4 linked regions of the Homo sapiens genome follow. The protein of the gene in region 2 interacts with the protein of the main gene of each other region in a biochemical or structural test. Each region holds a gene or a part of one and is shown on either strand. Other genes may lie near its edges.

Region 1 (6,388 bases), on a different chromosome or scaffold from region 2:
CTTGGAAGGTGATGACATGTACTCTAATTGACTTCAAGTTGTGTAAGAGGGAGGCTGAAATTATAGGAAGACAGATTTTTAGTTCAGTGAGAGGAAATACCTTTAGTGAACTAAAGAAGGAATGAGCTATCTTAAGACATGATGGGCTCCCCAAGACTAGAAGTATTTATTTAAACAGAACCATGACGACCTTAGGGGACCTGGGACCAAGTGCTAGACGGGTGTGGAGGTGGCTGACCGAGGGTCCTTGCTGCCCCTTAAAGTCAAGGAGTTTAAGGCAGCCTTTCCTTTCTTTCAAGTGGCTCCTCAAAGGGAGCCATTATCTGCAGCTACTGTCTCAGTTTTATGTAAAGAGTATTTATCATTTGGGAATTTCCCCTCCCCATATAATACTTTTGACTCCTGAATGCATGCAAAAGAGCTGTAAGAAACTTTCTGGTGCTAAATGAGAAAATGTGTGAACATAAATGAGCTAGTTTAACTAAAAGTTCACCAAAATGTATTTTAAACATCAGGCTCTTAAAAACTCAATAGTTTGAAATTTGCATTTTAATCAGCGTTTGGCTAACAATATGAGATAAACTATTAGAGAAGTGTAGGTCATTCTGGCAAATAGAAAGTTCCATCATTTCACACTTAGAAAGCTGCCACGAAGAGCTTATTCTTGGAGTATAAAATGCAGAATTTAGGTTAAGCCAGTCATTTTGTAGATGAAATTGTACACTGGCAATTTCTTATGGTTCAACCTAATAGTAAAACATTTATAAACAATTGTATCATTACAAATACATTTAGACATCGTTTTCTGCTAAACTCAGTATTTTCCTTTCCATCCTGATCAAAGAAACATTATTGCAGTAAGCCACATTATAATTCAGCACGATTTCTTCTAAAAAGGCTCCGAGTTCCTTTGAGCTTGTTATTGTACAGTGGATTTTTCATTTGCAAAGACGTTAAGCCCTCCAAATGTGCAAATCATGAAGTCAGTTGTTGTTCCAGCAAGGTTTGCCCAGCGGTAAAAAACAAGATAAAACTAATGCACTAGCTGAAACCAGGTGGGGAGACCATGTGTGGTAGTGCTTGGGGGTGGAGGGAAACTATTTCTGAAATGAGGACTTAAAGTATAATACCAGCTTCACTGCCTGTTCACGAGAAACCAAAGCTTCAATTTAACTGCAGGCAATAGGAGTTTCACACTGTCAGCACCAACTGTCTAAAATCCAAAACTAGTATCTAAATGTGTAGGATCAAAACCAAAAATCTGGAGGGATCTAGTTAAACTTCAATATGCATGACCCCAGATTCCCCTTTAAAATATAGTCCAAGTATTTTATCTTTTCCATAGGGCATTGACATTATTGTGTTAATGTGAAATAGCTATTTACCTCTCCAAACCTCGGCTTTATAGAATAGATAATTATCACATCCTGTAGGAGAGCCATTTGAAAAGACAGCCTTGTTTACAGACAGGAGAAGTTACAGAATTTAAAACTGTTAGAAAATTGGGGGACTATGGGGCTGGGCGCGGTGGCTCACGCCTGTAATCCCAGCACTTTGGGAGGCAGAGGAGGGTGGATCAGGAGGTCAAGAGTTCGAGACCAGGCTGGCAAACATGGCAAAATCCTGTCTCTACTAAAAATACAAAAATTAGCCGGGCGTGGTGGCGGGCGCCTGTAATCCCAGCTACTCAGGAGGCTGAGGCAGGAGAATTGCTGAAACCCAGGAGCTGGATGTTGCAGTGAGCCGAGATGGCGCCATTACACTCCAGCCTGGGCAACAGTCAGACTGTCTCAAAAAAAAAGGAAAATTGGGTGACTATCGAGGATTCCCCTCTCCCATTTGTTAAAAAAAATTAACAAAATTTAGGCCCTCAGACTTTATGCATTCATACTCAAAATAAATGCACTAAAAATCAAGGAGCAGTAAGGGCACCAAGAAAGAGCAGTTTGATCTATTTTATAATTAAAACAGGCTCGAGTTCAAGCTACTTGCCCAGCACCTTTTGGGACATGGGAAAAAAACAAAGACCTCTACCATATCCCACATTCTCTAAACTGAGAACCATCTCAAACATCAAGTCTACATATATCACTCTGACCAAGTGGATTTTTACATCAATCTTCCCCTGCTGAGGTTCAGAGCTGTCAAATCCCAACTGAGGCCGGGCACAGTGGCTCACGCCTGTAATCCCAGCACTTTGGGAGACTGAGGCAGGCGGATCACCTGAGGTCACGAGTTCAAGATCAGCCTGGCTAACATGGTGAAACCCCATCTCTACTAAAAAATACAAAAATTAACCGGGCATGGTGGCGAGAGCCTGTAATCCCAGCTGCTCTAGAGGCTGAGGCAGAGAGAATTGCTTGAACCTGGGAGGTGGAGGTTGCAGTGAGCTGAGATCGCCACCACTGCACTCCAACCTGGGCGACAGATTGAGACGTCTCCCATCTGACTTAATTCCCTCATCAACTGATTGCCAGTGTTGTATGGACAGGCTTGGTCTGGATAGACTTGTCTTCCCACTGCTATTTCCAGCCGGGCAAAAGAACCACTTCCATTCTCTTAGAGCTTTCGATACCACAGTAAATAACCTGGTATCTTGCTGGGGCAGTTTTCCACCCATATTAAACTACATCTGCCCCATTTTGACTACTAGAAAATGTATCAAAGAGGCTGTCCAATTTGTCTGAGATGAGATGGCTGAAGTTCTTAGCCAAATAATGGCCAAAGCTCAAAACAGATCTATTTGATACAAATTCGTTCTTTGACACACAAGGAAACAGATGTCAAGAGTTGTTTCCACCCAGTATCAAGCTTCCTCCCCTCCTCTCTCAGGAGGCTGAACACACATTCCTAGTCACTAATGTGCTATGAACTGAATAGCAGTGAATCCACTTAAATTAACTCATGCTGGTACAGAGTCCTCTCCATATAGGCACAGGACTTAACATTTATCATTTAGCCATTCTTTCAAAGATAATTCAAACGTTACAGATTTCTCCATATTCCTGTTAATGTAGAAACATATTCCCTTTACTTTTGGAATCAAAGACCAACTTCCATATGTGACAATGACTATAATGTAAGAAAACTGATTTTCACAAGTGTCTTGTACAAATAAGCTACTGCAGCAGTTTATAGAGATAGTTGGGTGAGACAAGGGCCCTGAGTACACAAATTTATAATGGCTGAGTGGTCATTCCACACTGTCACTGCATTACAGAAAAAAACTGGATGCTTGTCTTGCATACAAATATGTAGTGCATTAAAAACACTGAGACCTTTTTTTCATTTTTTTTTTTATTACATTTGGACCTTTAAGAAACATATACCATCAGATATACCACTATTCAGTAAAAATCTATTCTAGTTTTTGGGAAGCTTATGTGTCACAAACTATCTTGCTTCTAGTCTCCAAGACTTTACTAAGTTTATCAAAAAGGTGGGCTCTGGTCTATGGGATCCTGAGCCTTGAGGTTTGGATGTTCTGATTATTGTAAAACAATTTCAAGTGGATTAACTTAATTCCCAGCTGTTTTTCTTCTGGAATGGGCTAATCAGTTTGAATTATCTAGTCCATTACAAGAATATTAAATTCCTTGAGCTTTGTGATCTATTCTGTCTTTGGAAAACCTGGTAAAAAAGTAATTTTTTTTCTATACAATAAGGATGGATTTACCAGAACATACCCAGTATTAATCATAACAAAAAGCAGTATAGATAATGTATATGTGCTGTGTTCACTTTAATAACCACTTCATAAGTAACTACTCTAACTATGGGGACTATTTCTGGATCAGTAAGATCCAAGTGTAGTTAGTTACACACTACACTCAGCTTAACACAACTCTTGGTATCTGACATTGATTAAAAGTAAAAAAGGGTAAGTGAACAAATACATACTCATACATGATCACGTTTTTAAGAAGCTACCCTTTGCAGAAGTAAACAAGAGAGGAGACTTTCAGGAAGCTACTGATGGGGACTGGGAAGGTTTAAAGCTATGGCTTTGGTAAGCACCCCAGTGAGCTGTAGGAAGGCATTGTAAGAGTAGATTCTGCAGCATCAAAGGATAATTCTCTAAAAGAGGTGGGTGTTTTCTCAATTAATCTAAATTCTGAGGCTTTCAGCAGTTGAGGGCTAGAAACAAGATCCAAAGAAAAGAGCCATCTTCACAACACTTAAGAAAGGTGACTGACTGAGCCATTAGGCTCATGATGCTAAATGGTCCAAAAGCCTTTGGTGGTGTGATATGGACAAGAAAAAAAATTAATACACAAACCACGTAACACCATTAAAACCAAAAAACATTTTTTCATTAAAAAAAGTATTTAGAACACACAAAACAAGGCAACACTTATTCTTTTTTCTCATCTTCTGGTATGGGATCTGTTGGTGGCTCCTCCACTGTTGCACTGTTGCTCTCCGAGCCAGTGTTACTATCACTGGTTCCTTCCTCTGCCATACTGTCGACCCCCTCCTGCCCACTCTCCTTGTCCTCAGGAGTAGACGTGCCTTCTTCACCATTCTGTTGGCTCTCTGTTGTTTCTTCAAGGTGTGTCTCCTCTGTAATCACACATTTGTCACTGTCAGTTCCAAGATGAAATTTTACTCTAGTTATGCTGACAGTATACAGCTGTGCTGTCCAATATAGAAGCCACTAGCCACATGTGGTTATTAAACCCCTGAAATGAACCAGTGTGACTAAAGAACTTTTAAGAATGTTGGAACAATTTGGGTATGAAAATCTACTTTTTAGCTGTAAATGAATGAAATTTATTAAATAAATGCAGATCAAATACTTCCGATGAAAATTTAGCTTCTGAATTGAGATGTGTATAAAGACTGTTTAAAAAAAGGAAAGCTGATTTTAAAAATGTTCCTTCTGTGTTGAAATAATTTTATTTAGGATATGTTGAATTAAATAAAACATATTGTTAAAACACTTGTTTTGCTTAACTTTTAAAAATATGTCACTAGTAGAAAATATAAAATTTCACGTGACTTGCATTTTATTTCTGTTGGACAGTGAATGAGAGTTAGTCTGTAGTGCTATGGATTAAACGAGGAGAAAGCAGTTGTAGAAATAATATAAGGTTGGTCTTTTAGACACTTTGTTTAAAGTCATGCTGGGCTGTTTCCTGTAAGAAATTAAAAGCATGAGGTTTTAGCTCTAATAGTCTCAAACGATTTTCTTCAGGTTTTTTCCTTGAACTAGGACAGAATCTGAGTAAAGACCTGCAAACCTTAAGCATAAGACATGCCCCATTCATAGATGCCAAAACAGAGGCAAAGGACTGAGTGTTTGTCTAGTTGCAAAATTAGCAAAAATCAGTTATTTTAATTTTCAAGCTCGTTTTAACCACAAAAATGTGCTCATGCTCCAAATTCATTACAATAAAAAACACATTCATACAAAACAGAAAGAGACTCAGATACTGAAACTTAAAATATGACCATTTCAAATGTTAATCTGCTGGATTAAATTTTGCAGAAATACCTGGTAAAGATATCTATATTCCATTACATGTTTTCCAGATGGTTGTCATCTGAGTACCAAGTATGACTACTGTCCCTCCCACTTCTTGCAACGATGCTCCAGGAAGCCTTTGGTTTTGTTTTCCATAACTACTTTTAGCTTAGTCCTGTTTACACAGTGTACTAGGCAGTGTTAAAACAGTGCCATGAGGTAAGGTGATCTCAAAATTACAAGTGACGATCAATGTAATCAGTACTTTATGTAAGTTTTATTTATACAAGTTATTATTATTATTTTTTACCTTGAGGGATGCTTTTAATCAGGAAAATCAGTATACCTAGAAGTAAGGGTTTTTCTAGGACAGAGCTGGCAATTTTTTTCTGTAAAGAGCCAGATAGAAAATATTTTAGACTTCGCAGGCCAGGCAGTTGTTGTTGCAACTACTCAACTATACTGTTTTATCCCCAAAGCAGCCACAGACAGTATGTAAACAAACAAGTGTGGCTGTGTTCCAGTTTTATTTACAAAAACAAGTGGTGGGCAGGATTGGCTTACAGGTATTACTTTGCAGAATGCTGTCCTAGGACACCAAAGACAATTAATCTTAACGGTAATAACCACATCTTGATAAATAATGTAAGCATTTAAAGGTTAAAATACTGAATGTCAATATCATGTCAAATTTAGTACTGGGAATCACCCTCAGTGGCAGGTACCAGAATACTTGCACTTAGAAAGAAAAACCTAAATTAAAGACAGCCGTACAAAGTCTTGGCACTGCCTCTGCGTTTGTTGCTAGTGGGTTACCTGTCTCCATCGGAATGTTCTCGTCGTCTTTCTTCTCCTCGCCTTTGTTAGCTGCTTGTTCTTCCTCAGGAACGATGCTGCTCTGACTGCGCTCAGCTTGCTCTG
Region 2 (6,124 bases):
GGCTAGTGGAGGAGAGCAGAGGAGGAGAGTAGGGAAAGGAGAATGCCATTTGCCTACATTTCCCTCTGCCCATTTCCCGCTGCCCATTTCCCCCCTTGTTTTCCTGAACGTGAACTGAGCTCTGGGCACTGTTTTAGGCCTAGCAGGGGACAGGATAAAGCCTGCTTCTCTAGGAATTCGCACTGAGGGTGTGAGTGTGTGCACGTGTGTGTTTGGAGGCGGGAGAATAAACACAAATAAATAAAAAGGAGAATTTCAGGCAGTGATAAGAGTGCTGAGAAAAACAGAACGGTGTGAAAGAGGAAGGCTGAGCCTGCAGAGGCTTGAGGCTGCTGCCACTGGGTAGCGGTAGGCCTTTCCGAGGAGGCGGCATTTGAAGACCGGAGGAAGGTTCATCCCAGCAAGTAGGAACAGCAAGTGTAGGTCCCCTAAGTCTTGGGGGAGCTTAGTTCCTTTAAGGGCAGCACAAAAATCAGTGTGGCTCCGGAGAGCACATTAGGGGAGAGAGGCAGGAAGAGCTTGGAGACATGGATGGAAGCTGGACCAGTTGGGCCTTGTTGAACATGGAAAGGCATTTAGATCGTATTCTGAGTTAAATGGGAAGTGACGTGAGAGATTTAACAATGGAGCGTCTTGAACTGCTTTACTCATTTAAAATACCCACTCCTGCTTGGCTGAATATCTCATGTTGTCTTTTTAGAAGCTTTGGCGATCCTATTTGAATGCATTTAGGTCCTATTGGAGGGGAATAGGATCTCATTTGAGGCCACGGAGGTCCATGGAAGTCACCTGCATAGCAAATACCCTGAAAGTGGCTGCAGGGAGAGTGTGAGGGTGGGACCGCCCTGGTAGGAGGTGGAAAATGAAAAACACACGGCCATGAGTTCCAGATTAGGGCTTCTGAAAGCCCTCAGCTTTCCCAGCTCCCATCCTAAAGTGGGTCTTTAAACAGGAAGAAAGAAAGATTGCTAAGTGTCTTTGGAGTTCCTCTTCCTTCCCCTTCTAGGGATTTCAGCACTCCTGGGGCTCGGGTTGGCTCTAAAGTAGTCCTTTCTGTGTCTTCCCACCTACAGTAACAAAGGCATGGAGCATCTGTACAGCATGAAGTGCAAGAACGTGGTGCCCCTCTATGACCTGCTGCTGGAGATGCTGGACGCCCACCGCCTACATGCGCCCACTAGCCGTGGAGGGGCATCCGTGGAGGAGACGGACCAAAGCCACTTGGCCACTGCGGGCTCTACTTCATCGCATTCCTTGCAAAAGTATTACATCACGGGGGAGGCAGAGGGTTTCCCTGCCACGGTCTGAGAGCTCCCTGGCTCCCACACGGTTCAGATAATCCCTGCTGCATTTTACCCTCATCATGCACCACTTTAGCCAAATTCTGTCTCCTGCATACACTCCGGCATGCATCCAACACCAATGGCTTTCTAGATGAGTGGCCATTCATTTGCTTGCTCAGTTCTTAGTGGCACATCTTCTGTCTTCTGTTGGGAACAGCCAAAGGGATTCCAAGGCTAAATCTTTGTAACAGCTCTCTTTCCCCCTTGCTATGTTACTAAGCGTGAGGATTCCCGTAGCTCTTCACAGCTGAACTCAGTCTATGGGTTGGGGCTCAGATAACTCTGTGCATTTAAGCTACTTGTAGAGACCCAGGCCTGGAGAGTAGACATTTTGCCTCTGATAAGCACTTTTTAAATGGCTCTAAGAATAAGCCACAGCAAAGAATTTAAAGTGGCTCCTTTAATTGGTGACTTGGAGAAAGCTAGGTCAAGGGTTTATTATAGCACCCTCTTGTATTCCTATGGCAATGCATCCTTTTATGAAAGTGGTACACCTTAAAGCTTTTATATGACTGTAGCAGAGTATCTGGTGATTGTCAATTCATTCCCCCTATAGGAATACAAGGGGCACACAGGGAAGGCAGATCCCCTAGTTGGCAAGACTATTTTAACTTGATACACTGCAGATTCAGATGTGCTGAAAGCTCTGCCTCTGGCTTTCCGGTCATGGGTTCCAGTTAATTCATGCCTCCCATGGACCTATGGAGAGCAGCAAGTTGATCTTAGTTAAGTCTCCCTATATGAGGGATAAGTTCCTGATTTTTGTTTTTATTTTTGTGTTACAAAAGAAAGCCCTCCCTCCCTGAACTTGCAGTAAGGTCAGCTTCAGGACCTGTTCCAGTGGGCACTGTACTTGGATCTTCCCGGCGTGTGTGTGCCTTACACAGGGGTGAACTGTTCACTGTGGTGATGCATGATGAGGGTAAATGGTAGTTGAAAGGAGCAGGGGCCCTGGTGTTGCATTTAGCCCTGGGGCATGGAGCTGAACAGTACTTGTGCAGGATTGTTGTGGCTACTAGAGAACAAGAGGGAAAGTAGGGCAGAAACTGGATACAGTTCTGAGGCACAGCCAGACTTGCTCAGGGTGGCCCTGCCACAGGCTGCAGCTACCTAGGAACATTCCTTGCAGACCCCGCATTGCCCTTTGGGGGTGCCCTGGGATCCCTGGGGTAGTCCAGCTCTTCTTCATTTCCCAGCGTGGCCCTGGTTGGAAGAAGCAGCTGTCACAGCTGCTGTAGACAGCTGTGTTCCTACAATTGGCCCAGCACCCTGGGGCACGGGAGAAGGGTGGGGACCGTTGCTGTCACTACTCAGGCTGACTGGGGCCTGGTCAGATTACGTATGCCCTTGGTGGTTTAGAGATAATCCAAAATCAGGGTTTGGTTTGGGGAAGAAAATCCTCCCCCTTCCTCCCCCGCCCCGTTCCCTACCGCCTCCACTCCTGCCAGCTCATTTCCTTCAATTTCCTTTGACCTATAGGCTAAAAAAGAAAGGCTCATTCCAGCCACAGGGCAGCCTTCCCTGGGCCTTTGCTTCTCTAGCACAATTATGGGTTACTTCCTTTTTCTTAACAAAAAAGAATGTTTGATTTCCTCTGGGTGACCTTATTGTCTGTAATTGAAACCCTATTGAGAGGTGATGTCTGTGTTAGCCAATGACCCAGGTGAGCTGCTCGGGCTTCTCTTGGTATGTCTTGTTTGGAAAAGTGGATTTCATTCATTTCTGATTGTCCAGTTAAGTGATCACCAAAGGACTGAGAATCTGGGAGGGCAAAAAAAAAAAAAAAGTTTTTATGTGCACTTAAATTTGGGGACAATTTTATGTATCTGTGTTAAGGATATGTTTAAGAACATAATTCTTTTGTTGCTGTTTGTTTAAGAAGCACCTTAGTTTGTTTAAGAAGCACCTTATATAGTATAATATATATTTTTTTGAAATTACATTGCTTGTTTATCAGACAATTGAATGTAGTAATTCTGTTCTGGATTTAATTTGACTGGGTTAACATGCAAAAACCAAGGAAAAATATTTAGTTTTTTTTTTTTTTTTTGTATACTTTTCAAGCTACCTTGTCATGTATACAGTCATTTATGCCTAAAGCCTGGTGATTATTCATTTAAATGAAGATCACATTTCATATCAACTTTTGTATCCACAGTAGACAAAATAGCACTAATCCAGATGCCTATTGTTGGATACTGAATGACAGACAATCTTATGTAGCAAAGATTATGCCTGAAAAGGAAAATTATTCAGGGCAGCTAATTTTGCTTTTACCAAAATATCAGTAGTAATATTTTTGGACAGTAGCTAATGGGTCAGTGGGTTCTTTTTAATGTTTATACTTAGATTTTCTTTTAAAAAAATTAAAATAAAACAAAAAAAAATTTCTAGGACTAGACGATGTAATACCAGCTAAAGCCAAACAATTATACAGTGGAAGGTTTTACATTATTCATCCAATGTGTTTCTATTCATGTTAAGATACTACTACATTTGAAGTGGGCAGAGAACATCAGATGATTGAAATGTTCGCCCAGGGGTCTCCAGCAACTTTGGAAATCTCTTTGTATTTTTACTTGAAGTGCCACTAATGGACAGCAGATATTTTCTGGCTGATGTTGGTATTGGGTGTAGGAACATGATTTAAAAAAAAACTCTTGCCTCTGCTTTCCCCCACTCTGAGGCAAGTTAAAATGTAAAAGATGTGATTTATCTGGGGGGCTCAGGTATGGTGGGGAAGTGGATTCAGGAATCTGGGGAATGGCAAATATATTAAGAAGAGTATTGAAAGTATTTGGAGGAAAATGGTTAATTCTGGGTGTGCACCAGGGTTCAGTAGAGTCCACTTCTGCCCTGGAGACCACAAATCAACTAGCTCCATTTACAGCCATTTCTAAAATGGCAGCTTCAGTTCTAGAGAAGAAAGAACAACATCAGCAGTAAAGTCCATGGAATAGCTAGTGGTCTGTGTTTCTTTTCGCCATTGCCTAGCTTGCCGTAATGATTCTATAATGCCATCATGCAGCAATTATGAGAGGCTAGGTCATCCAAAGAGAAGACCCTATCAATGTAGGTTGCAAAATCTAACCCCTAAGGAAGTGCAGTCTTTGATTTGATTTCCCTAGTAACCTTGCAGATATGTTTAACCAAGCCATAGCCCATGCCTTTTGAGGGCTGAACAAATAAGGGACTTACTGATAATTTACTTTTGATCACATTAAGGTGTTCTCACCTTGAAATCTTATACACTGAAATGGCCATTGATTTAGGCCACTGGCTTAGAGTACTCCTTCCCCTGCATGACACTGATTACAAATACTTTCCTATTCATACTTTCCAATTATGAGATGGACTGTGGGTACTGGGAGTGATCACTAACACCATAGTAATGTCTAATATTCACAGGCAGATCTGCTTGGGGAAGCTAGTTATGTGAAAGGCAAATAGAGTCATACAGTAGCTCAAAAGGCAACCATAATTCTCTTTGGTGCAGGTCTTGGGAGCGTGATCTAGATTACACTGCACCATTCCCAAGTTAATCCCCTGAAAACTTACTCTCAACTGGAGCAAATGAACTTTGGTCCCAAATATCCATCTTTTCAGTAGCGTTAATTATGCTCTGTTTCCAACTGCATTTCCTTTCCAATTGAATTAAAGTGTGGCCTCGTTTTTAGTCATTTAAAATTGTTTTCTAAGTAATTGCTGCCTCTATTATGGCACTTCAATTTTGCACTGTCTTTTGAGATTCAAGAAAAATTTCTATTCTTTTTTTTGCATCCAATTGTGCCTGAACTTTTAAAATATGTAAATGCTGCCATGTTCCAAACCCATCGTCAGTGTGTGTGTTTAGAGCTGTGCACCCTAGAAACAACATATTGTCCCATGAGCAGGTGCCTGAGACACAGACCCCTTTGCATTCACAGAGAGGTCATTGGTTATAGAGACTTGAATTAATAAGTGACATTATGCCAGTTTCTGTTCTCTCACAGGTGATAAACAATGCTTTTTGTGCACTACATACTCTTCAGTGTAGAGCTCTTGTTTTATGGGAAAAGGCTCAAATGCCAAATTGTGTTTGATGGATTAATATGCCCTTTTGCCGATGCATACTATTACTGATGTGACTCGGTTTTGTCGCAGCTTTGCTTTGTTTAATGAAACACACTTGTAAACCTCTTTTGCACTTTGAAAAAGAATCCAGCGGGATGCTCGAGCACCTGTAAACAATTTTCTCAACCTATTTGATGTTCAAATAAAGAATTAAACTAAAGACAACGAGTTTGTTTTTTGTAAGCTCCACTTCTTGCTAGCAGTTCACCACTGATCCTCTAAAATCAAAGTGGTTAAACGATCTGTCACACACAGTGAGTCTGAATGCTAAAGCCTCTCCTCACCTCACTCCCTCTGCCCAACACCCCCAGGTGTATCAGGAAGTGTGTGGACACTGTGGTCAGGCAGAACTGGCCTCAATTCTTGGCTTCACCACTTACAAATTTTATGATCATTGGCAGTTGATTTTTCAGAGTTTCGGCTTCCTTATCAACAATATGATGATAAGTAATAACACCTAATTCACACGATGGTGGTGAGGACTAACTGAGGTGCTCATTAAACATAGTTGCTGTTTTTTAATGCCTGGCCCAAATCCTTCCCTGTGAGGGAGAAGAAGGATGCTTGAGAGTGGTTATTTATGAATGAATGAGTGAATGGAAGAATGAGTGATCTGAAATGATATAATTAGCTTAAAAACCTCTCCCTCATTCTGAAGGTAAAGCAGG
Region 3 (7,680 bases), on a different chromosome or scaffold from region 2:
ATATATGTGTGTATATATATATATATATATATACATATATATATATGAATGTTGCAGCATGCATTTCCTGAGAATAAGGATCTTCTCTTTATTCTAGAGGTATATACCTCTACAGGTGATAGAGGTATATAACCACAATACCTCTATCACCTGTAAAATCCCGATTCCAGGACACAACATAGATAAATTAAATAAAAATTTTTGTAGTGGAGCCAAGGATCCGTAATTTTTACAGTTCTCAAGTGACTACAATATGCAACAAATGTTGAGAACCACTGTCCACACATTAATTAAATTTGTTAAATATTTTCAGTAAAGAATACATTTTGTTTCTTAATATGAATAAGAATGATAGCCTTTTAAAGTTTAGCAAATCTAAATTATATATTTTAGGTCAGCATTTTACAATAATTTACATTTCCTTAAGCTGTTCTTATCAAGTTAATAATTTTCTTTGTTAAATAAATGTATTTTATCTTAATTTCAGTTTCTTCTATATCATGATTTAAAATGCAGAAAGTATGTATTATGTAGTTTTCAAATATATTTATCTCCAAAGTTAAATGGATTTTAGTAAAAATGATATTTATACATATATATTTTAATAAAATGTTTAATAAATTAGACATGAATCTTAGCATGTGAAACATAAAACTTTTTTATAACTTTCCCCATAATCAAACTTCAAATTCGTAAGAATTAAAAGTCCGGAAAGAAAGAAATCGAAATCCAAACTTACTGCATGTTAACATTTTAATAATGTACTTTCATGTGTTAAAAACCTAAATGTTTCTTGCAACAAAGCATTATCCATAAGTGAATAAAAATAATTTTGACTAATAACAAATTATTCCTATCTTGTAGTTTCTTTGTCAGAATTAAGATTAGCATTATCTATTAATTACTTCTCTGTGGCTTCTATGACATTGTTGTATCCAAGCAAGTAAAGAAGACATTAAGCATTTAGAAACAGCCCTTAGATGTCTATGTCTGTTCTTCAGTGTTAGGAGTAAAAGCAAGCAATGTGTAAACTGATTATTTTTAATAAATGAATCAGAACAGTTCAAAGTCAGATAAGTTATACATTTTAGACTGGGGCAGAAGTCACAAGACCCAGATTCTAGGCTATGATTAGCAGGGCACTTGATCTCTCTGGGCCTGAAGTTTCTCACCTGTTAAATGAAGGATTTAGTTATGCCAAAGGTCCCAAACTTTCTCAGTTCACAGCATTCCTAGTGTCTCAGTAATTTTTTCATGGTGTTGCAAGCTAAAAGAAACACCTAACAGTTCCATTTATTAAACAGTTAAACCCAAACTTATGTTTGTCTATCCTAACAACTTAGTAGCTATTTAAAAAATAATATACATTAACATTTTTTATTCTTAATGGGATGTGCACATCTGTTGGGCACTTCATAACTTCTCAAACTTAGGAATAAACTTGGAAACCGCTACCCTCATTCCTGTTCTACAGTAATTTTCCCATAGTCCTTGTGTTTTATTACAGCAATTTACAAAAACACAGCCTCACAAAGATACGATGTCAAAAGGAATGAAGTACAATTTAATGTGTAGAAGTTCTGAACTACCTCAAGATAGTGGTTTGCACGGTGTCCAACTGATGTCACTGTGTTGGCCTTGAAAATTTAAAATATCCCATGATAGTGCCCCTGTGAGTTTGTTGTGGTGCTCCTGGGGTGCCTCAGTACATAGTTTAGGAAGCATGGACTACCCTCTGTAAAATACTTCATATAGCTACAATGTGTGTTGTAAACTGTAAAAGACAATTCTGAGGGCCTGAAGTAAGGAGCTGCAGAATTGAAGAGGAGATTAAAAAGTGATACATGTTCAGTCTGCATGAAATTCCCCTTCCTCCCCAGGTCACCTATAAAATGCCTACCTATGCCTACCTATAAAATGCCTACCTATGCCTCAAAACTCAGCTCAAGCTCCCTCAGGGAGGTTACCAAGTTACCCTTACCAAGTTAAATCCACCTATTATACATTCTCACAGTATTCATTTCACAGTACTTGTCCCAGTTGTAATTATACATTCATTTGTGTAACTATCTGGTTAATTCTTGTCTCTCTCATTAGAATGTAAGCTCTAAGAGGAAAGAACATGTCTGATATCACTACTGTAACCCACAGTGTCTGGTATATTATAGGGGCTAAAATCTTGCTTAGTGAAATGAACTGTGATAGAATAGGTTTAGCATTCATTTTGATTATTTTCCTTTATTCAAGAACAGCTGATATTTATAATAGCATTCCTAAAACATTTTTCTCATACTATTTCGCAGGAGAAAGAAACCCATACACATACAGCTGCATCTGAAACCTCAGAAACTAAGCTCAACCCAATTGATTAAAAGGATGTTCTTTGGATAAGGTAATCAAATGTTCACCGACTCTTATAGCCAAATTAATTATTATGAGATAAAAATCACGTAACTACAAAAAAAAAAACTGCTCACAAAAAAGTTTTTAAATCTTAGCAGATGGACACAAACCATACTTTGAGAACCATGTTCCACAGTGCCAATACAGGAAGTTTCTAGATAATGGCAGCTCATTTTTTAAAAATGGCACTACACTATACTGTATTCACATGCCAGCAAAACTGTTAAGGTAAGTTCATGTCACTATTAAAATAAAATGAATTCTGGGAATTTTGTTGATATTCAATTTTAATCTTAATTATGCAAAGATCTGTTACTTAACTAAGACTATGTAACATAATATAGCATATGACTTCTGGATAATGAAAATAATCCTAAACTTAACCATAAAAAAATAAGGGTATGAAAGTCAAAATAAGGTAGAAAATGACTGCACCAAATAGCCAACAACCTTAAAAAGGGTAGGATTTTTTTAAATCACTAAATTAAGATTGGTTCATTGCATTTAGTACATCTCTTTTATGAAGAGGAGTTATAAGCTACAGAATCAATAAATTATGTTTTGATATAAATTTTTCACCCTTAAAGTTCCTAGCTAGGAGGAAATTATTCTTTTACACTTACACGTTTTAGATAGAATGGCTATAAGTAAGCACAGATAAATGAAGAAATGAAAGAGAAGGGAAAAATAGAGATGGTTGATTCTGCCTCTGCAATTGCTAATTCATAAACATCAAACTTTCCCAGTGTACACTGTCTTCTTTGGGAATTTGCTCCATCTTTTTCCTTAAACTGAAAGGTGGCTTACTGAGGCTATCACTTTCCTAAAGGTCTCCCCAATACTGCCTAATTATTTTCTCTTATCACAGGATACAGGGTGGATGTCCATCTACTTCCTTGTTGTCACTTCCCAGATCACTTTCACTTTATGCTCTTCTAAAATTAAAACAAAGATCATCGACCACAAAACACAATTGTTCTTTTGTAGCTCATGCTAGAATACCCTCTTTGTTACATCTCCTTCATTTTTCTGATCCAAAATTTAGTAGCCTACTATATCTCACCCACTGTCCTTCTTTCCTCCAGCTATGGTAGAGAACTGCTCCTCCAACTTTATGTACATTTGAATCACCTGGGAGTTCCTGTGAACTTCGGGTTCTGATTTAATAAGGACACCCAAAGAGTCTGCATTTCCTGTAACTCTCAAAAGAAGCTGTGGAGTACTCTGAATAGCAAAGCACTGTAAGTGCTGTTTCTGTTAGTATCTAATCTATTAGTCCTAATCTCCCATTTATGCTTTGGCACTCATTCCCTCCTGCTTTCGGTATCTTAATATCTATCATTCCTTCACTCTTCCCTCAGGTTCCCTACATAGTTTATCTCTACCCCCTCTAAGCCGCTCAGTATCGCCCATTAAAGAACTAAACCAAAACTAGAAAACCCTCATTTAACCCTTCACTCCCCCTACATACAATCTGATGTGTCTCTCATCCACAGCTAAACTTGGAAGAAAAATTGCCTGCTTGAGGATGCCATTTTGTTATCTTCAGCTCAATCCTGTACCCACTTCAATGTTATTTGCAGGCCCATTACCCCAACACTGCATTCACGAAAGTCATCAGTGACTACACATTGAGAAAACAAGAATGACATTTTCAGTTCTCAACTAATTTGAATTTCTCAACAGTATTCAATATTGTTAATTACTCCCAATATTTTTCCACATGGTCCTCCATGACACAATACATAATAGTCCCCTTATTATCTATATTCCTGTCTATTGTAAAGACTTCCCCCGCACACCAAAAAAGGTCAAGGAAACTCCTAGCCTTCAAGTCTCAACTCAAATCTGGCCTTCTGAAGCCTTCCCAACTAGGAAAATATACAGTCCCATTGGTTGTCTACCAGTTGTCTACCAGTTAATTGTAATTCTTAGCCACAAGTTAGCTGACCCACCGTCTCTCAAACAGGTGAAGTTAAGCTCAATATTTGGCATATCTTGATATACTTTGTACAGTCTAGCTACAATAAGTTTGCCTATGCACGAAGATGGCTACCGGCGGGGGGGGGCGTCCTTACGTCCTACGTCATCACGTGCCGGGATGAGGGTGGGGCCCTCAAGGAAGACGGAATGGAATCCAGATGGGCGGGGGCAAGCAGGACGGGGCGGGGCTACGCGGGATCTGGGCGGGGCGGGGCCGGTGAGGGGTCGGGGGTGCTCCTGCTATTCAGCCGGTGCGCGCGGCGGCGGGAGGCAGTGGCTGGGGAGTCCCGTCGACGCTCTGTTCCGAGAGCGTGCCCCGGACCGCCAGCTCAGAACAGGGGCAGCCGTGTAGCCGAACGGAAGCTGGGAGCAGCCGGGACTGGTGGCCCGCGCCCGAGCTCCGCAGGCGGGAAGCACCCTGGATTTAGGAAGTCCCGGGAGCAGCGCGGCGGCACCTCCCTCACCCAAGGGGCCGCGGCGACGGTCACGGGGCGCGGCGCCACCGTGAGCGACCCAGGCCAGGATTCTAAATAGACGGCCCAGGCTCCTCCTCCGCCCGGGCCGCCTCACCTGCGGGCATTGCCGCGCCGCCTCCGCCGGTGTAGACGGCACCTGCGCCGCCTTGCTCGCGGGTCTCCGCCCCTCGCCCACCCTCACTGCGCCAGGCCCAGGCAGCTCACCTGTACTGGCGCGGGCTGCGGAAGCCTGCGTGAGCCGAGGCGTTGAGGCGCGGCGCCCACGCCACTGTCCCGAGAGGACGCAGGTGGAGCGGGCGCGGCTTCGCGGAACCCGGCGCCGGCCGCCGCAGTGGTCCCAGCCTACACCGGGTTCCGGGGACCCGGCCGCCAGTGCCCGGGGAGTAGCCGCCGCCGTCGGCTGGGCACCATGAACAGCAGCAGCGCCAACATCACCTACGCCAGTCGCAAGCGGCGGAAGCCGGTGCAGAAAACGTGAGTGTCCCGAGCGCGTCCTCATCGCGGGGGCTGGGCGCTCAGGCACGCGGGTGCGGGAGGCAGCCCCACCCCGCCCCCAAATCCCTGCGATCCTGGGATTAGGTCCATTCCCGGCACTGCCCGTGGAATCGAGGTTTGGAGGCCGGCTGGGAGACAGAGGACTTGGATTCTCCCGTTTTCAATGATTGCATTTTAAAAATTGTCCTCCCACCCATCCTCTTCCCCCGCACCAGTGCATACACACCCTCTCACATTTGCAACTTTGTTCTTTCTGATTTGGTCCTGATTTGTTGACAGCTCTGATCTGCCTTGGGCTAATGGATTAGTTAGTATAAACCTGTCTTGAAATCTCCTTCCACTTTTCATATCCGCATGGGTTAGGTTAGAGGACGGTCTTAATTCTCATTCTTCGTAGAGTTTGGTAAGGCGAGATGTTTTAAAGAGCTAAACACATGCTGACTTTTACGAAGGGGCTGAGTGCCTCTAAAGGTACTTTTTGGTCCCCACCAACTGGCTTTGTGTTGCGCTCATATTTACTTATTTGGCAGCAATTTTGTAGCGCTCATCGTGACCATATCGGTAAAGTGGATAGAAGTGGTAGCAGGTGGGAGTGGATGCAACGGACAGGATACGGTGGAGGATTTGTATTCTTCAGACATCTTTTTCGGAAGCTTGCTTATCACTTTTGGGGTGGCTTTAGGGTCTGTAAAATAAAAGATTTAGAACTGCATTTGAGAGAGGTTTTCATTCTTAACATCTACCTCTAATTCTTTTCCCCTTCAAAGTTTTCTTCTAGTTGAGTGAGTACAAACTTGCTTTTGTCGTTGTCGGTTGATTTTGGTGGAATATTTGTGTGAGATGGCCAATTTTTTGTGTGTGTCAGAAAAAACTATCCGTGCTCAAAACATTTCCTGTTGTGAGGTGGTTGTATTCATGTGTTTATTCCAATTTTTTTATTTCTAGATCTCTGAGTTACTTTACCTACATGTGTTTCAAGTTTTCGTAAACAATTTTAAGAACTCTTAAACGTCTTCTCAGACCAAATCAGAAGTGTGCATTTTGCTTAGACTCCAACTATCACTAATGGGAACCAGAAAAATAACACTTTAAGATTTACATTTAAAACCAGTTATTGGTTTAAAGTTTCATTCTAAAATTTTAGTTTCCTTTCAGAATTTCAGTTATCATAGTTCTTCAGAAGTATACTTATGAATTGGCATTAACAGAGGATAATAATCTATAAATAGACTGATGAAAATTTGGAAGTTTTATGGTACAGTGTGTCTTAAGGGAATATTGTCAAACCAGCAGTTTTCTACCTTGGCAGTTTGAGACATCGGTTATTAATACTTTTAATTTTGTAGAATGGTTTCTTATATTAAAGTATGTTTGTCTTATTTGACATTGTCATTGATGGTTAAAGTTGGGAGGCATCCCAAATGTCTGTTCTATGTGTTTATTAATATAATAATACACTTAGCATCATATATAATAGGGGTGTCATGGGTTTTATGTGTATGGTGAGAAAACATGAAGATCTCCCTGATGTGTTTTTAAGATACTGGGTTTCAGTTAGGGTGTTATCAAAGGACCTGGATGGCTTTGTAAACAAAAACAAATGCCATAATTTTGTATTCATTACACAGTTTAACATTTATGGATTTTGGTTATTTTGCGTAAAATGTACTTTTTATTAGATTATCCTAATATTATACTTACTTAGTTTTTAATATACTTGTATTAATTTCTTATAATATAACAAAAGTATTTTTTCCATTCACCCACATTTTGTTAGCATAGATGTTTATCAGATCTCTGCTGAGCACCGTATATTGCTTCTAATCATACAGATGCCTTAAATATTACCAGCTTGCTCTGTAAGAATAGGCTAGTGCTGGCATTTTCATTATCAAGTGAAAGTGTTTATATAAATTATTTTTACCTGAATGAAAAATTGTTAACTTTATAATGCAGTTAATCAAAGTTTATTTTAGAAATGAAGTCATTAAACCTAGTATTAAATTTGAGTTTTAAAATTAAACTACCAGTTTGTGGCCTAATGAGCCCCAAAACATGCCAACATTGGGGAAAATAGATCTTGTTTTGAGCTGAAAATGCTATCCAGACCTACTTAACTTTGACCTCTTAAATGAGAGCCATTTTATTTTATTTACAGATAAAATATGCTGTAGCATTATTATAGGACTGTTTAAAAAGACAGCCAATTAAATATAAATTTTATGGAATATAAGTATTCCATAAAATTTTGGAGTAAAGTAGGTGACAATTGTAACCTGAAGCTCTTTCAATCTTGAGTTGAATTTATTAAGAAAAATCAACC
Region 4 (7,031 bases), on a different chromosome or scaffold from region 2:
TTTTATTTATTTAGTTAGTTTGTTTGTTTTGAGACAGAATCTCACTCTATCACCCAGGCTAAAGAACAGTGGCGCAATCTTGGCTCACCGCAACCTCCGATTCCCAGGTTCAAGTGATTCTCCTGCCTCAGCCTCTCAAGTAGCTAGAATGACAGACGGATACCACCATGCTCGGTTAATTTTCGTATTTTTATAGAGATGACATCTCAACATGTTGGCCAGGCTGGTCTCGAACTCCTGACCTCAAGTAATCTGCCCGCCTTGGCCTCCCAAAGTGCTGGATTACAGGCATGCACTGCCACGCCCAGCCTAACATTTAAGTTGTGAAATCTGCTCAGGCAGACACAGTGGCTCACACCTGCAGTACCAGCTACTCAGGAGGTCTAGGTGGAAGGATAACCTGAACCTCGGAGGTCAACACTTCAGTGAGCCGTCATCACACCACTGCACTCCAGCCTGGGTAACAGAGTGAGACTCTTGTCTCAAAATAAAAAAATAAAAGAATAAAAAGATAAAAATGTCACATCTATGAAGAATTGGCACACAGGATAGGTAAGAAAAATATCTGTATTTTATTATGGCTTTCTCCTGCCTTAAAGTACCATAATTCCAGGCCTGAAGTTACCTACTTTACTTCCCATTACTCTCATAGTAATATCATTAAAAAAAAAAAAAAAAAAAAAAAAACAAAGCTGGCTGTGTGCAGTGGCTCACGCCTGTAATCCCAGAACTTTGGGAGGCCAAGGCAGGCAGATCACCTGAGGTCAGGAGTTCGAGACCAGCCTGGCCAACATGGTGAAACCCCGTCTCTACTAAAAATACAAAAATGAGTCAGGTGTGGTAGCACATGCCTGTAATCCTAGCTACTCAGGAGGGTGAGGCAGGAGAATCACTTGAACCCGGGAGGCAGAGGTTGCAGTGAGCCAAGATTGTACCACTGTACAATCTGGGCATCAGAGCAAGACTCCATCTCAAAAAAAAAAAACAAAGCTTAGATTACTTTGAATCCGAAAGCAGAGAAGGGTGAAATCAAAGCAATAACTAAATTGCTCCTTTATTTGAAATTCATGCTAATTCTGAAAACAACATTTTTTTTTTTTTTTGAGACAGAGTCTCACTCTGTTGCCCAGGCTGGAGTACAGTGGCATGATCTCGGCTCACTGCAAGCTCCACCTCCCGGGATCATGCCATTCTCCTGCCTCAGCCTCCCTAGTAGCTGGGACTACAGGCGCCCGCCACCATGCCGGGCTAATTTTTTGTATTTTTAATAGAGACGGGGTTTCACTGTGTTAGCCAGGATGGTCTCAATCTCCTGACCTCGTGATCCACCCGCCTTCACCTCCCAAAGTGCTGGGATTACAGGCGTGAGCCACCAGGCCCGGCCTTTTTTTTTTTTTTTTTTTTTTTTTTTTTTTTTTTTTTTTACAACAAAAACAAAAACACGGAGTCTTGCTCTGTCGTCAGGCTGGAGTGCAATGGCGCAATCTTGGCTCACTGCAACCTCCACCTCCCAGGTTCAAGTTATTCTTCTGCATCAGCCTCCCGAGTAGCTGGTACTACATGTGCCCGCCATCGCGCCTGACTAATTTTTGTATTTTTAGTAGAGATGGGGGTTCACCATGTTAGCCAGAATGGTCTCAATCTTCTGACCTCGTGATCCGCCTGCCTCGGCCTCCCAAAGTGTGGGGATTACAGGCGTGAGCCACCGCGCCCTACTCAACAACATTCTTTATACATCTCTAAATGGGACTCAGATGAAAAAGGGCCAAGGCTACCTTTGAACAACTTTGGCAATGAAGTCATCTGTGCAGATCAGTGCATCCGACAGCCCTTTGTAGAGTTTACAGCTCACATGTGTTGAGTCCTGCACATCCATTACCACTGAAAGACAAAATACATAGGAAATTGTTTTAGATTTAGCTTCTGACTTTTCCAAAAAAGACATAGGGACCAAACCGCTCCATGAGAGGTGTTAGCCACCCACACAACTCACCACACACCAGGGAGTCATTCACAGGGTGCTGAAAAGATACGCTGAAACGAGACTCTGAGAGAGGACACACTTCAAATTGGAGAAGCCCAGGAGAATCTAAAAGGCAAAGAGAAAGATCATAAAACAACCAAATATAAGACTTCACACAGGCTGGGCACGGTGGCTCACGCCTGTAATCCCAGCAGTTTGGGAGGCCAAGGCAGGTGGATTACCTGAGGTCAGGAGTTCAAGACCAGCCTGGCCAACATGGCGAAACCCCAACTCCACTAAAAAATAAAAAAAAGAGGCCGGATGCAGTGGCTCAGGCCTGTAATCCCAGAACTTTGAGAGGCTGAGGTGGGCTCATCACCTGAGGTCAGGAGTTCGAGACAAGCCTGACCAACATGGACAAACCCCATCTCTACTAAAAATACAAAATACAAAATTAGTCGGGCGTGGTGGCACATGCCTGTAATCCCAGCTACTCGGGAGGCTGAGGCAGGAGAATCACTTGAACCTAGGAGGCGGAGGTTGTAGTGAGCTGAGATCGTGCCACTGCACTCCAGCCTGGGCAAGAGTAAGACTCCATCTCAAAAAAAAAAAAAAAAAAAAAAAAAATTAGCCGGGTGTGGTGGCGCACACCTGTAATCCTAGCTACTCAGAGGGCTGAGACAGGAGAATCGTTTCAACCTGGGAGGCAAGGGTTGCAGTGAGCCGAGATCATGTCACTGAACCCCAGCCTGGGAAACAGAGCAACACTCTGTCTCAAAAAAAAAAAAAAAAGACTTCACACAAATAACATTCCTTAAATGTACAGACTGAAATTCTCTCTCCCTCCTTGGAAACTAAATCGCACACTTTTTTCACATACAAAACCTACTATATGTCATCCACAGATGACAGAAGGAATCAGATTCCAAGGAACCTGCCAGTTTGTTATAAATTTCTCCAGAACAAAAGTAGCTAGACTTTCAATTTTCCAAGATGAAGAAACTTAATCCCTAAAATGTAAAAGTGAATTCTGAAAATAAAAGTGGCCGAGTGTCTCATTCTACTTGATAAGCAGATATCCAGAACCACTGCCATAAACTCTGCTTTCTATCAAGTGTTTGCAGCTGTTAGATGTGCAGCCCATAGTTTGGCAAGCAGAGATATAGAGGCTATAATCTAAAATAATGTATTTATTCCACATATATCTAGCCATCATCATATGTTCTTATGCCAGATGTGCTAGCAGCCTAGACACAAGGATCATATACTTTCTTTGTAAAAAGCATGCCTCTCTATAGGATTAGCTCCATAACTGCCTTATGAAAACTCATTTTTAAATGCCCTAAAGCTATCTGGAGACTTCTTAAGGCATTTTAACACATGAAACAGAAGTGCCACAACTTTGAACATATATGCTCTATGTTATTACTCCAACTACTAAAAATTTCTCATTTCTAAAGCAATTTTTATTTCCATGAGAAGAATCTCCTGGCCCAGCACAGTGGCTCATGCCTGTAATCCCAACACTTTGGGACACTGAGGTGGGAGGAATGCCTGAGGCCAGGAGCTCAAGACTATCCTATACAACATGGCAAGACACCATCTCTACAAAAAAAATGTTGCTGTATAAATATGTACACTGAAATAAAAAGTATAATATAAATTTCTTTAAAATTTGACTAGATGTAGAGGTGCATGCCTATAGTCCAGCGACTTGAGGAGCCTGAGGGAAGAGTATCACTTGAGCCCAGGAGTTTGAGGCCAAAGTGAACTATGACTGTACCACTGCTTTCCAATCTCGATAACAGAGCAAGACCCTGTATCAAGAAAAAAAAGTCCAGGCATGGTGGCTCACGCATGTAATCCCAGCACTTTGGGAGGCCGAGGCAGGCAGACCACTGAGGTCACGAGTTCAAAACCAGCCTGGCCAACTCGACGAAACCCCGTCTCTGGTAAAACTACAAAGATTAGCCTGGCATGGTGGTGGATACTTGTAATCCGAGCTACTTGGGAGGCTGAAGCAAGAGAATTGCTTGAACCCAGGAGGCAAAGGTTGCAGTGAGTGAAGATCACACCACTGCACTCCAGCCTGGGTGACCAAGCAAGACTCCGTCTCAAAAAAAAAAACAAAAAGGCCAGGCGTGGTGGCTCATGCCTGTAATCCCAGCACTCTGGGAGGCTCAGGCGGGCAGATCACGAGGTCAGGAGATCGAGACCATCCTGGCCAACACGGTGACACCCCGTTTCTACTAAAAATACAAAAAAATTAGCCGGGCGTGATGGCGGGTGCCTGTAGTCCCAGCTACTCGGGAGGCTGAGGCAGGAGAATGACGTGAACTCAGGAGGCAGAGCTTGCAGTGAGCCGAAATTGCGCCACTGCACTCCAGCCTGGGCGACAGAGCGAGACTCCGTCTCAAAAAACAAACAAAAAATAAATAAATAAAAATAAAAGAGATCTGATTTGCCTTCCCTATTTCTTATTGTCTATCACTGGCACTGACACATATCTATCAACAGAGCGCTTCTGACTTAAGATTTTTAAAATTAACTATGGTTAGCTAGAACAGCCAAAATTTACAGCAAAGCTTCTAATAGCCAACTGTCTTTGAAAATCATCAGCATTTACGCCGGGTGCCATGGCTCACGCCTGTAATCCCAGCACTTTGGGAGGCCTAGGAGGGTGGATCACGAGGTCAGGAGTTCGAGACCAGCCTGGCCATGATGGTGAAACCCCATCTCTACTAAAAAAAATTTAAACAATTAGCCAGAGGCTGACGCAGGAGAATCGCTTGAACCTGGGAGGCGGAGGTTGCAGTGGGCCAAGATCATGCCACTGCACTCCAGCCTGGGGAACAGAGTGAGACTCCGTCTCAAAAAAAAAAAAAAAAAAAAAAAAATTCATCAGCATTCCAGAATCCTGAGAGAAAAAAGAGCTAAACCTTCTTAAAGCTGTAAGATTAAGTTCTCCAAACAATGGGGAGAGAAAACATACTCAGAACTAAACCTGGGAAGCACTCTCCTAACAACCTAAAATTTAACCTAAAACTGGCCAAGCACGGTGGCACCTATTATCCCAGCACCTTGGGAGGCCTAGTCAAGAGGATCGCTTCAGCCCAGGAGTTACAGACGAACATGGGCAACATAGAGAGACCCTGTCTCTACAGAAAAAATTAGCCAGGCTTGGTGGTACATGCCTATAGCCCCACCTACTTGGGAGGCTAAGGCAGGAGGATCGCTTGAGCCAAGGAGGTAGAGGCAGCAGAAAGCTGTTATCATGCCACTGTGGTTCAGTCTGGGCAACAGAGTGAGACCCTGTCTCAAAAAAAAAAAAGCCTCTCTCACTACAGCATTCCAAGTTCTACCTTATGTATATCTGCTACAGGGTACAGCCCCTAAAATACCCAGTTACATTACTATGTTCAGAAAAAGAGTTAAGAACATTGCAAAAAGCAGTGGTCTCCAAATGCTAGTCTACAGACTGGTTCCATCAAAATGATTTGTGGAGTTTAGATTCCCAACTCTTCCCACTGAGATTATCATTCAGTTCATCTTCGTGTGGAAACACAGCATCTGTGATTTTTTTTTTTTTTTTGAGAGGGAGTCTCATTCTGTCACCCACACTGGAGTACAGTGGCATGATCTAAGCTCAGTGCAACCTCCGCCTCCTGGGTTCAAGTGATTCTCCTGCCTAAGACTCCCAAGTAGCTGGGACTACAGGTGTATACCACCACACCCAGCTAATTTTTGTATTTTTAGTAGAGACTGGGTTTCACTAGTTGGCCAGGATGGTCTCAATCTCTTGACCTTGTGATCTGCCCACCTCGGCCTCCCAAAGTGCTGGGATTACAGGCACAAACCACTGCACTCAGCCTGGTGTTTTGTTTTTGATTCAGGGTCTTACTGTGTTACCCAGGTTGGAGTGCAGTGGTGCAATCTGAGCTCACTGCAATCTCTGCCTCCCAGGCTCAAGCGACAATCCTCCTGCCTCAGGATCCCGAGTAGCTGGGACCACAGGCGCACACCACCACAACTGGCTACTTTTTTCTAGAGATGGGGTTTTGCCATGTTCCTCAGACCGATCTCAAATCATGGGCTCAAGTGATTTGCCCACCTTGGCCTCCCAAAGTGCTGGGATTACAGGCGTGAGCCACCACACCTGGCCATCATCTGTAGTGTTAAAAGCTCCACATGTTTGAATTTTTTTTTTTTTTTGAGACAGAGTCTTGCTCTGTCACCCAGGCTGGAGTGCAATGGCATGATCTAAGCTCACTGCAACCCCCGCCTCCCGGGTTCAAGCGATTCTCCTTCCTCAGCCTCCCAAGTAGGTGGGACTACAGTCGTGCACCACCACGTGCAGCTAATTTGCTTGATTTTTATGCCAAATATGAAAAAAAAAAAACTTTTTTTAAGTTCTACAGGTGATTCTGATGGGCCACCAATTAAAGAACCACTGGAGAAGTAAGTTTCCATCTTCCAGTAAGCATATCAAAGGAAAGGCAGTACCTTCTTTCAGAATAGTTCTTTTGACACAGCTTCCAATGAGGGTGTTATAGGCCACTTGGTGTCTGATCAGATTTAGGATAAGAGGAACTCGGCCAGGGTGCTGAAAGGTGATTTTGCTAACAAGGGTTCCCTGTAGACTTCGGCCATCTGGAAGAGGAGCATCCTTGTTGAGGAAATAGCAGTGCTGCTGACCAGGAAGAGCCTGGGCAAAAAGAACAGTTAACGAGTGCTATTTAGTTACCTATTGTATTCCAACCACAAAGTATCCTGAAAAAACCTACTACTCAAAAAAGTGCAGAAAAGTCTCCACAGTGAATGTTTTCATCAGCTGATATTATAAATGTCAATCAATTACTAATTAGGCTGAAAAGATGTCTTTTTAGTAAATGCACTATGCTAGTGATTTCCTAACCTAGCTAACATAAAAACTACCTCAGAAATCTGTATTAAAGAGGTTCCTAAACCATAAATGCAAAATCTCTTTTTTTTTTTTTTTTTTTTGAGACAGAGTCTCCCTCTGTTGCCCAGGCTGGAGTGCAGTGGTGCGATCTCGGCTCACTGCAAG

What was found.
Region 1: the proteins of ESR1 (region 2) and SMARCE1 form a complex in vitro, tested with the Homo sapiens proteins (3 studies listed by BioGRID).
Region 3: the proteins of ESR1 (region 2) and AHR form a complex in vitro, tested with the Homo sapiens proteins (4 studies listed by BioGRID, with this or other methods).
Region 4: the proteins of ESR1 (region 2) and MED1 form a complex in vitro, tested with the Homo sapiens proteins (6 studies listed by BioGRID).

The regions. Positions count from the first base shown.
Region 1 is NC_000017.11:40,624,431-40,630,818, forward strand, and holds the end of SMARCE1 (SWI/SNF-related matrix-associated actin-dependent regulator of chromatin subfamily E member 1), read right to left. Parts: coding exon 6,284-6,388; intron 4,564-6,283; coding exon 4,355-4,563; 3' UTR 532-4,354; downstream 1-531. UniProt on the Homo sapiens protein: Involved in transcriptional activation and repression of select genes by chromatin remodeling (alteration of DNA-nucleosome topology).
Region 2 is NC_000006.12:152,097,659-152,103,782, forward strand, and holds the end of ESR1 (estrogen receptor), read left to right. Parts: intron 1-1,073; coding exon 1,074-1,308; 3' UTR 1,309-5,616; downstream 5,617-6,124.
Region 3 is NC_000007.14:17,293,994-17,301,673, forward strand, and holds the start of AHR (aryl hydrocarbon receptor), read left to right. Parts: upstream 1-4,658; 5' UTR 4,659-5,271; coding exon 5,272-5,336; intron 5,337-7,680. UniProt on the Homo sapiens protein: Ligand-activated transcription factor that enables cells to adapt to changing conditions by sensing compounds from the environment, diet, microbiome and cellular metabolism, and which plays important roles in development, immunity and cancer.
Region 4 is NC_000017.11:39,413,251-39,420,281, forward strand, and holds part of MED1 (mediator of RNA polymerase II transcription subunit 1), read right to left. Parts: intron 6,669-7,031; coding exon 6,467-6,668; intron 2,090-6,466; coding exon 1,994-2,089; intron 1,882-1,993; coding exon 1,776-1,881; intron 1-1,775. UniProt on the Homo sapiens protein: Component of the Mediator complex, a coactivator involved in the regulated transcription of nearly all RNA polymerase II-dependent genes.